Linked DNA regions of Homo sapiens. The protein of the gene in region 1 interacts with the protein of each later gene in a biochemical or structural test. Each region holds a gene or a part of one and is shown in the gene's direction. Other genes may lie near its edges.

Region 1 (5,674 bases):
AGCAAACAAGACCCCAGCCCTGCCCTTTATTAACCTTGTGAACTTGGATATGTTATGTGACCATGCAAAGCCTCAGTGTCCTTGTCTATACACTTGGGATCTTAGCAGTGGCTACTGTGAGGTTGGGAGGTTTCTGGGAGCTACCAGCATAGTGAATGCAACACGTTGGATGCCCAGAACGTGCTGGCATTATAATGGCGGGGAGGCAAGGACAGCTTTCTGTGCTTTGAGTGGCTGGGTGGATGGAGATGACGCCATCTCTGAGGGAGAACACAGGAAGGAACACTTTGGGGACAGCCACCTCCTTGAGGTCCCCACGTCAGCGCTAGCCATGCCCACTGTAGTCATGGATCTACTCATGGCTCTGGTGGCATCTTCAATCTCTGTCTTCTTGGTGCCCAGCTCAGAGCTTAGGCATATAGTAGGGGCTGTCTTACAGGGGGAGGATCTGGCTCGCAGGTACAGATGTGGGCACTGCAGACACGGAGGTGCAGAAAGATGCAGGTAAAGAAGGAAGAGAATGCCAGGCATGGTGGCCCAGGCCTGTAATCTCAGCACTTTGGGAGGCTGAGGCAGGAGGATCGCTTGACCCTAGGAGTTCAAAACCAGCCTGGACAACATAGTGAGACCCTGTCTCTACAAAAAATAAAATTAGCCAGGTGTGGTGGCGCGTGCCTGTAGTCCCAGCTACTCAGGAGGCTGAGGTGGGAGGATCACTTGAGCCTGGGACGTTGAGGCTGCAGTGAGCCGAGATTGCACCACTGTACTCTAGCCTGGGCAACAGAATGAGACCCTAACTCAAAAAAAAAAAAAAAGAGAGAATGGACGGAGCCCAGGGAACCCTGAGGTTGAAGGGCTGTGGGAAAAAAGGTAAGGACCTGGAAAGAGGCTGGGAGACAACACTCACAGATCAGGTTGGGGGGTAGGTGGGCGGAGCACCACAGACAGGAGGGTTTCAGGAAGAGGGGCTCATCAGGGTCACATGCTGCTGAGAGGTCAGGGATGGTAAGGCCCGACTGGCGGTGTGGGATGAGGGTTTATCAGACACAGATTTGGCACCAAGGAGGTCACTGGGTACCTGGCAAGAGAATGCCGGGTGCGGTGGCCCAGGCATGGAATCCCAGCACTTTGGGAGGCTGAGGCAGGAGGATCGATTGAGAGTCAAGACCTGTCCCATTGGGGACCGGCGCCCCATTGCAGGGGGTGGGAGGAGCTGGTGTGGTGTAAGGATGGGGAGAGGAGAGGTGGGCATCAGAACAGGAGGTCACTCAGACCCTCAGGGGCACCTGATTTCCCCTCCCACTAAGGACAAATTTCATGTTCAACAGTCAGAGCCATCTGCAGATGGGCCAAGAGGTCCTGGGAGGTAGTGAGCACCCTGTCCCTGGAGGCAGACAAGCAGAGCTCCGAGACCCACCGCGGCGGGAGAGGCCCAGGCTGTGCAACACAAGCCCCGTGTCCTTCTCAGCAAGCACCTGGCTGGTTCCCTGCATCGTAAAAACCACACAGAGGGTCGGTCTTTCTATTTATAGTGTCCAAAGAGCCTCCTGCAAGAACACACATGGGCTCGCACCCAGAGGTGGTCGGCGCGCAGCCTCACGCAGACACCAGACACAAAACACAGCCGCGATCTGTGTCTCCTGGAAAGGGATCCACATCCTGGCTCCCAGGTTATTCCCTGAATTCATTCCGTCACCCCCTCTTTCCGCCGGGCCACCCCACCCCCCGGGCCACCCTAGCATCTCCGCTTGGCTCTCCGCATCTCTCCCTGCTCCTCGGGCTCTGCCCACCCCCACCCGCCTCCAGGCCTCTCCCGCCCCCTCCTCGGGTGTCCCCCAAGCCCGTGACTACAACCCCCAGGCGCCCCCGGCCCGGGTGCTGCGCATGCCCCCTGCTCCTTGCGCGCTCCCGCTCCCCCCGCCCTCGCTTCCTCCTCACCTCCCTCCGCCCCCCTCCCCCGCGCTCGGCTCCCGCATCCCTCCATCCTACCCTGTGCCGCAGCCGCATCGCCACCGCAGCCCGGCAGAGCCGAGCCCGGCCCAGGCCCCTGCCCCTGCCCGGCCCTCGGCCAGTCGCCCCCGGCCCCGCCCCCGCCCGCAGGCCCCCCGCAGCGGCCGCGGCGCCCCCCGGCGCCCCCAGACCCCGGCCTCCGGCACAGAGGCGGGAGACCCGGAGCAGCAGCAGAGGCAGGAGGACTAGGAGGAGGAGGAGGAGCCGTCGCAGGATGAAGGATCGGACTCAAGAGCTGCGGAGTGTGAGCTTGGGGGTGGGGAGAATGGGGGGGCGGGACCCCAATATTGGGGGAGCGCGTGGGGATGGAGTGGGGGAGGTGCTGGGACGTGGGGGCGAAGGATGAGATCGGAGGTTGGTAGCCGGAGCACCCCAGTATCTTCAGGCGCCTGATGTCTCTCCAGTGAACCTGCATTTTGGGGACAGTGCCTGGAAGGGGTTGGAGGCCATGAAGACACAAGGGGGCAGGAGAGGTCTCAGGGGCCTCGAACACCCCGCATTCCCAGGAGGGCCCCGGGGTCTGGTCTGGGGATGGGAGAGAGTGGATATCAGGAGAAACCGGAGGAGACTGTCATCCCCTGGGCAGGTTTGCCAAAGAGAAGCATGGGGGCGGTGACTGGGCCAGGCTGAGAGTCTAGCAGGACCCAGATTCAGGGGATGCTACGGGGAAGGACACAGGTTGGGACTGAGATGCCAGCACCTGGCAGTGAATGAAGTGTGTGTGTGTGTGCACACGCGTGTGTCACTCCCTATAGGGAGGGGGCATCTCTCCGAGACAGGGAGGGAAGAGGTGGCCTCCGGAGAGAGCCAGAGGGCCAGGGCCTGAGACAGGGTGACCCAGAGGTGGGAGATGGGGATGCAGAGGAGAGGGCCATGGAACACGGGCCGTGCTCTGCTTGGGGGAACTGGGGCACCCCGGGCAGTCAAGGGCTGATGCAGGCCCCAGGTCTGCAGGCCTGAAGAGGCCCGGCTCCAAGAGTCTGGCCAGGCAGTCCCTGGTTTTGGGGGGACAGGGGAAGGACTGCAGTGGAGGCTGCTACCTGGAGGAACTGGGGAGTGGGGTTCGATGAGAATGGTTTCAGGGGCAGGGAGGACGCTGGGGTATTTGGAGAAATGACCTGGGGCCCGAGGAGGCAGCACTGACAGTCCGCACTGTGCTGGGCTGGTGGTGTTATGTTAATAAGGGTACCGGCCCCGGCTGAGCTGCCCAATGCACTGAGCCTTTACAGGGAACTGGTGGGTTGTTACCCCAGGGGTTATTACCCCACTTGACAGATGAGGAAACTGAGATTCAGGCGTGGGAAGGGACTTGTCCAAGGTCACCAAGCAAGTGGGTGGGGGGCAGACTGCAATCTGGGTTTCCTGTCTGCTAGGTTGACACAGGTCTCTGCTTTTCTGGCCTTTGAAACAGAAGTTTCAGCACTGGGGGTGAAGAGCTGTCCCCTGGATTTGGGGGTGGGGACCCAGGTTACAGACAGACGAGAAGAAGGTGTTTGGAGGCAAGTGACCGCTGTCTCTGGGGACAGACAGGTTGCCAAATGGGAAGCAAGGAGGAGCTGGTGGCTGAGGGAGGGAATTTTAAAGGTTTCTTTATTACATTTTTACTGAATATACACTCAGGCATGAGGAAAGTGACAGTAATAATAAACATTGTTTGAAGTGTTTTATGCATATTCACTCATTTTGATCCTCACAGCAATCCTATGAGACTGGTTATCTCATTTCATAGATATATAAATATCTTTTTAGATATATAGATATATGTTATCTCATTTTATAGATAAGGACACTAAGCTCAGAGAGGTTAAGTAATTAGACCAAAGTCACACAGCTGGTAAAGGCAGGATTCAAACCCAGGCAGGCCGGCTTCAGCATCGGTGCTGTCAATTCCCCTCCTCAGTTTGCAGAGCAGGCTTTCATCCGTGATGTCATTAGAGCCCCACTGACCTCCTGGCAAGTGGACGGGGAGGCTCTTTCATTTTAGAGTTGGGGAAACTGAGGCCCAGAGTGGTTGAATAACTTTCCAAAGGTCACACAGCTAGCAGGTGAGGGATCCGGACTTGAACCCAGTTCCCCTGCTACCAGGACTATTCCATGACTCCAAAACCCAGGGAAATGGAAGTGGGTTGGGATCAGGTGGTGTGGAATTGGGGTACAATTCGAGAAAGAGGGAGGGAAAAGGCTAAGCGGGGTAAGGGGGAGGCAGGGGAGGGGGAGGCCTCATGAATGAGTCAGGGGCCCCTGCTCAGAGGTAAGGAATCCTGTTGGCTGTGGCTGCCGGAGGTGGTGTGGAAGGGTGAAGGGGCTGAGTGGATGTGGTGGCTTTGGTATTAGTCACAGCTCAGGGAAACTGGAGATTCAAGAGGGGGCGGGCGGGGTGGGAAAAGCTGACAGATTCAGGTAGCGTAAGGGTCTCCCTGCTACAGTTGAAAGCAAGGAGCCTGGGATGCAGGAGACACCTGGCAGGGTGTGGGGGACCTGGAAACGGGGTCTCTGAGACACTGGGAGGGATGAGGCAGGGGCGGTGGTGGGAGGGGACATTAGCCCAGGGGACTGATTGTCTTTCCAACAGTACCTTGGCATTCCCAAGGGGTTCTCAAGTCCGTTTGTCACACAGTGGTTTCGGGAGCCAGACTGTCTGGGTTCAAATTCTAATTTTGCTACTTCCTGTGAGACCTTGGGCAAGTTGCTTAACCTCTCTGGTCCTCAATTTCTTCGCGTATGAGTTGGGAGAAGTAAGAGTGCCTGTTTCACAGGGTTGTCCTGAGGACTGGAAGTAGTTAATATGCATCAGGTGCCTAGGAGGGGGCCTGGCGCCCAGCAGTGCTGTGTGTCTGTTACCCAGCAGATGGCTTGTTTATTTCTCTTCAACACCACACAAGCCCCCTGCGATGGGCAGGACATGGCCCCTATTTTATTTTGGAGTACATTGAGGGCCAGAGGGGGTAAAAAAAACCTGACTTGTCCAAGGTCAGATAGCTTTTAATGGTTGAGGTGGGCTTGAACCAGGGTTTTCTGCGTCCAGTTTACCAGGCAACCTTGGTTGGTGCTAGGCTGGTTGTGGAGGCTGTGAAAAGGAGTTAATCAGCTAAATAGGTGTCCCAGGGTCTAAGGAGTGAAGCCAGAGTGGGGCTCCAGAGGAAAGAGCAGAGTGAGTGAGGTGGAGAGGAAGGTGGGTTATGGGAGAAGACAGGAGGGGCACAGGGAGGGCTGAGGTCTGAGACGCAGCTGTGGAGTCGGGTGGGAGAAGTGCGGAGACACCCTGGGAGGAAGGTGGGGCCTGCACTGCAGGAGCCTGAATCTGAGGCTGGACAGGATGAAGGCTGCTGAGGGACCGCCCCGTGCCCCAAAGGCCCTCAGGTATGAGGCAGGCACAGTAGGTGCTTTAGAAACGCAGCCCTGAAATCACAGGGTGCAGAGACCAACGAACCCTGGGTGATGGATCCATATCCTCCAGCTGCTCTGGGCTGCCTTTATTTATATTTAAAAAAATGTTTTTAGAGACATGGTCTTCCTCTGTCACCTAGGCTGGAGTGCAGCGGTGCAATCACAGCTCACTGCAGCCTTGACCTCCTGGTCTCCAGGGATCCTCCTGCCACAGCCTCTCGAGTAGCTGGGATTACAGATGCGCACCACCATGCCTGGCTAATTCTTTTTGCTTTTG
Region 2 (4,624 bases), on another chromosome or scaffold:
AATTTGTAGTAATACATGAAAAGGTTAGGAAGTATAGGGAAATGTATATCTGGATGATGGAAAGCAGGATGGAGTTATTTTCTTTTCCTTTCAAAGGAGGAGTATTAACAAAATATATATTTTGTGGTAGGCACATGAGGGATGGCCAAAAGAGTAGAAGAGTTGGGAAAGAATGGCAAAACATAAAAAATACATAAATCTAATGTTAGATTATATGATAGTGAGCAAGGCTAAATCTAATGTTAGATTATATGATAGTGACCAAGGCTAGGTATACAGAACTGATAAAGGTTGGGTTGGAGAGCATCTTATAGAAGAGGTAGGATGTGGATTGGGCTTTGAGTGATAAGAAGGATTTGGATGAACAGGGAGGAACAGTGAGGGCATTTCCTATGAAAGGTTCAAAATAAAGATTAACAAGGAGCTTGACTTAACTGAGCTGTGTGACTCATGTAGATGAGAAGTGGAAAGTAAGATATAAGTAGGTAGTAGAGGAACTTGAATGCCAAACTAAGGAGTTGACAGATTGGAGTGGAGTATAAAAAGAAACGACAGTATCTGGAGATTGAATGACTGTACTCACTGCTGAAAGTTTTGTTTTGTTTTTTTTCTGAGACAGGGTCTCTGTTACTGAGGCTGGAATGCAGTGGCGTGATCACAGCTCACTGCAGCCTCTCTTTCCTGGGCACAAGAGATCCTCCCACCTTGGCCTCCCAAAGTGCTAGGATTACAGGCATGAGCCACTGCACACAGCCAAAGTATCCTTTTTTTTTTGAGACGGAGTCTCACTCTGTTACCAGGCTGGAATGCAGTGGCGCAGTCTCAGCTCACTGCAACCTCCGTCTCCTGGGTTCAAGTGATTTCTCCTGCCTCAGCCTCCCGAGTAGCTGGGACTACAGGCGCATGCCACCACACCCAGCTAATTTTTGTATTTTTAGTAGAGACGGGGTTTCACTATGTTGGCCAGGATGGTCTTGATCTCTTGACCTCATGATCCGCCCGCCTTAACCTCCTCAAGTGCTGGGATTACAGGTGTGAGCCACCACACCCGGCCTCAATGTATTCATTTTTAAAGAGGTTCTTAGACATTAATATTTCATCCAGTTCTCAGCTGGTCTTGTAAACCAACAGCGGTTATATTTTTATATTTTCAGTAAGTGTTTTTATGAAACAACATTTTTATGCCATTTCTGTTATAGAAAGTAGAGATTAATTGCTTGTCAGTCAACTTTAGTGTTTGTTTTGGCCATGAGGAAAGGTTTGACAGTGTTCTTCCTAGTCTTATCCATTGGCTTCCTATTCTAACACAAGTCTGTTGACCTGTTTACACCTTGGTTGACCAACTGAAAGTTCTGTATTTTTTGAGACGGAGTCTCGCTCTGTCACCCAGGCTGGAGTGCAGTGGTGTGATCTCGGCTCACTGCAACTTCCACCTCACGGGTTCAAGTGATTCTCCTGCCTCAGCCTCCCAAGTAGCTGGGATTACAAATATGTGCCACCATACTCAGCTAATTTTTATATTTTTAGTAGAGACAGGGTTTCGCCGTGTTGGCCAGGCTGGTCTCAAACTCCTAACCTCAGGTGATCTGCCCGCCTCTGCCTCCCAAAGTGCGGGGATTACATGCGTGAGCCACTGCTCCCGGCCAAAAGTTCATATTTTAATAACTATGACTTGTCAATCAGAGTTTAGCAGATTACTTTAAGCAAACAAGTTAAAATGTACAGATTATTTGATACAAACTCTTAGCTATGTTTTACAAACATAATTGTACCTTTCTCTTGTGTTCCATGTACCTTCTTGGAAGAGTACAGAAGAGAGGAAGTAGATGAATTTTCTTGAGATCAGATGTTAGGAGAACAAGGAGAAAGAAGTCTCCCCTAAAATCTTAGAGGAAGATCAGCTCTAAGTCACGTGTTGATAAATAGGAAGAGCACTGAATTAGACCTAAGATGGTCTAATATCATAGAAAGTGGGAAATGCAGCTACAGAGTATTAATTTTATGTCTCTTTGTGTATCCCAGCCAAGCATAGGCAAGCTTTTCTTGAAGACTGGTGGGAAACAAGGTAGGGTATGGTCCTGAATCAGCATTCTTCAGCCTCTAACCTCAGTAGAACCCTTTCTCAGTGGATCAAGAGAAGGCATTACTTTTTTAGAGATGGCCTCTCCCTCTGTCTCCCGGGCTTGAATGCAGTGGTGCCACCATAGCTCACTGTAGCCTCAAACATCTGGGCTCAAGCAATCCACCCACATCAGCCTCCCAAGTAGCTAGGATTACAGGTGTGTGCCACCATGCCCAGCTAATTTTTGAAATTTTTTGTAGAGACAGGGGTCTTGCTATGTTGCCCAGGCTTGTATCAAACTCCTGGCCTCAAGAAATCCTCCCACTTCAGCCTCCCAAAGCACTGGGATTACAGGCTTAAGCCACTGCACCCAACTGGCACTTCTTTCTTTTTTTTTTTCTGGCACTTCTTGAGAGATGGAATCAAGGGGCTGCTGTAACAAAACAGTTCCCTTAAGAGAAGAAAGTATTATCTCAGTTAAAGATGTCTGATTGTAATTGTCTTTCTTCCACCTATTTCTTTCTTACACCATTGAGACCTTGGCCAGTATGATATCTCTTATCCTCAGCTCTGTTCCTATCATTCTTGCCTGTGTCTTGATCTTTCTAATCTGCTAGTCTGTGTTTCAGTTAGGCTCGTCACATGAATAACCATAACATGAGCTTCTTAAAGGTAGACATGAGATCTTAGTCCTATGTGTAAGGCCTAGTCTTCATACCAGCAGTAGCAGTAACAACCCAGGTCAGGTCCAGAGTTCCTTATTTGCCATTTGGAAATACTTTTTCTTTTCTTTCTCTTTTTTTTTTTTTTTTTTCTCGAGACAGGGTCTCGCTCTGTTACCCAGGCTGGAGTGCAGTGGCAGTCATGGCTCACTGCAGCCTCAACCTATCCTCCAGCGTCAGCCTCCTGAGTAGCTGGGATTACAGGCACATGCCACCACACCCAGCTAATTTTGTATCTTTTGTAGAGACAAGGTTTCACCATGTTGGCCAGGCTGGTCTTGAACCCTTGGGCTCAGGCAGTCTACCCACCTTGGCCTCCAGAAGTGCTGGGATTGCAGGCATGAGCCATTAAGCCCTGCTGGCCATTCAGAAATCTAAAAAACTCCTAAAGTTTTGTTTTATTTTTGCTGTAATGGTGCCACAACTCATTAGGGTATAAAATGTAACCTGAACTGAAGCTATGTTTAGTCTTTATTACTTGCTGTAGATATTAATTGGTTTCACTACAGAAATACTCTTTTTGAGTCAGGGTCTCACTCTGTCACCCAGGTTGGAGTACAGTGGTATGATCTTGGCTCACTGCAGCCTCGACCTCCTAGGTTCAAGTGATCCCCCCACCTCAGCCTCATGAGTAGCTGGGACTACAGGTGCATGTCACCATGCCTGGTTTGTTTTTAAAAACTTTTGTTTCTTCTTCTTTTTTTTTTTTTTTTTGAGACGGAGTCTCACTCTGTTGCCCAGGCTAGAGTGCAGTGATGCAGTCTCAGTTCACTGCAACCTCTGCCTCCTAGGTTCAACCGATTCTCCTGCCTCAGCCTCCCAAATAGCTGGGATTACTGGTGCCTGCCACCACGCCCAGCTAATTTTTGTATTTTTAGTAGAGATGGGGGTTCACCATGTTGGCCAGGCTGGTCTTGAACTCCTGACCTCAGGTGATCCGCCTGCCTCGGCCTCCCAAAGTGCTGGGATTACAAGCATGAGCCACCATGCCTGACCCTGTTTCTTTTCTTTTCTTTTTCTTTTTTTTTTTTGAGACAGAGTTTTACGTTGTCACCCAGACTGGAGTGCAGTGGTACAATCTCGGCTCACTGCAACCTTCGCTTCCTGGGTTCAATCGATTCTCATGCCTCAACCACCCAAGTAGCTGGGATTAGAGGCATGCACCAACACCTTGCTAACTAATGTATTTTTAGTAGAGACGGGGTTTTGCCATGTTGGCCAGGATGGTCTTGAACTCCTGACCTCAAGTGATCCACCCACCTCGGCCTCCCAACGTGCTGGGGTTACAGGCATGAGCCACCGTACCTGGACTTTAAAAAGTTTTTGTAGAGATGAGTTCTCACTATGTTGCTCAGGCTGGTCTCAAACTCCTAAGCTCAAGCAATCCTCCCACATTGGCCTCCCAAAGTGCTGGTATTACAGAAATGAGCCACCACACGCAACGTCACTACAGAAATATTAATGTATTTAATTATGTGGTACTGTCCAAAACATCTTGCCCCCAATGGATTGGGGTAACAGTTGTGGGCCTGTGCATTAATTTAAGGTACTATTCTGAACATGTTAATTTAATCCTTAAACAGTAGCCTTAATATGAGATAGATGTTTTTTATTATTATCATTTTACATCCAGGCTACACTATGTAGTGGAAGAGCTGGGATTCAAAACCAGGCAGAACCCCCTTGCTTTTTTTTTTTTTTTTTTTTTTTTGAGACAGAGTCTTGCTGTATCACCAGGCTGGAGTACAGTGGTGTGATCTCAGCTCACTGCAACCCCTGCCTCCCAGGTTCAAGTGATTCTGCTGCCTCAGCCTCCCGAGTAGCTGGGATTACAGGCGTG

What was found.
Region 2: the proteins of STX1B (region 1) and SNAP23 form a complex in vitro, tested with the Homo sapiens proteins (one study listed by BioGRID).

What each region holds. Positions count from the first base shown.
Region 1 is NC_000016.10:31,006,947-31,012,620, reverse strand, and holds the start of STX1B (syntaxin-1B), read left to right. Parts: upstream 1-1,982; 5' UTR 1,983-2,224; coding exon 2,225-2,254; intron 2,255-5,674. UniProt on the Homo sapiens protein: Potentially involved in docking of synaptic vesicles at presynaptic active zones. May mediate Ca(2+)-regulation of exocytosis acrosomal reaction in sperm.
Region 2 is NC_000015.10:42,515,575-42,520,198, forward strand, and holds part of SNAP23 (synaptosomal-associated protein 23), read left to right. Parts: intron 1-4,624. UniProt on the Homo sapiens protein: Essential component of the high affinity receptor for the general membrane fusion machinery and an important regulator of transport vesicle docking and fusion.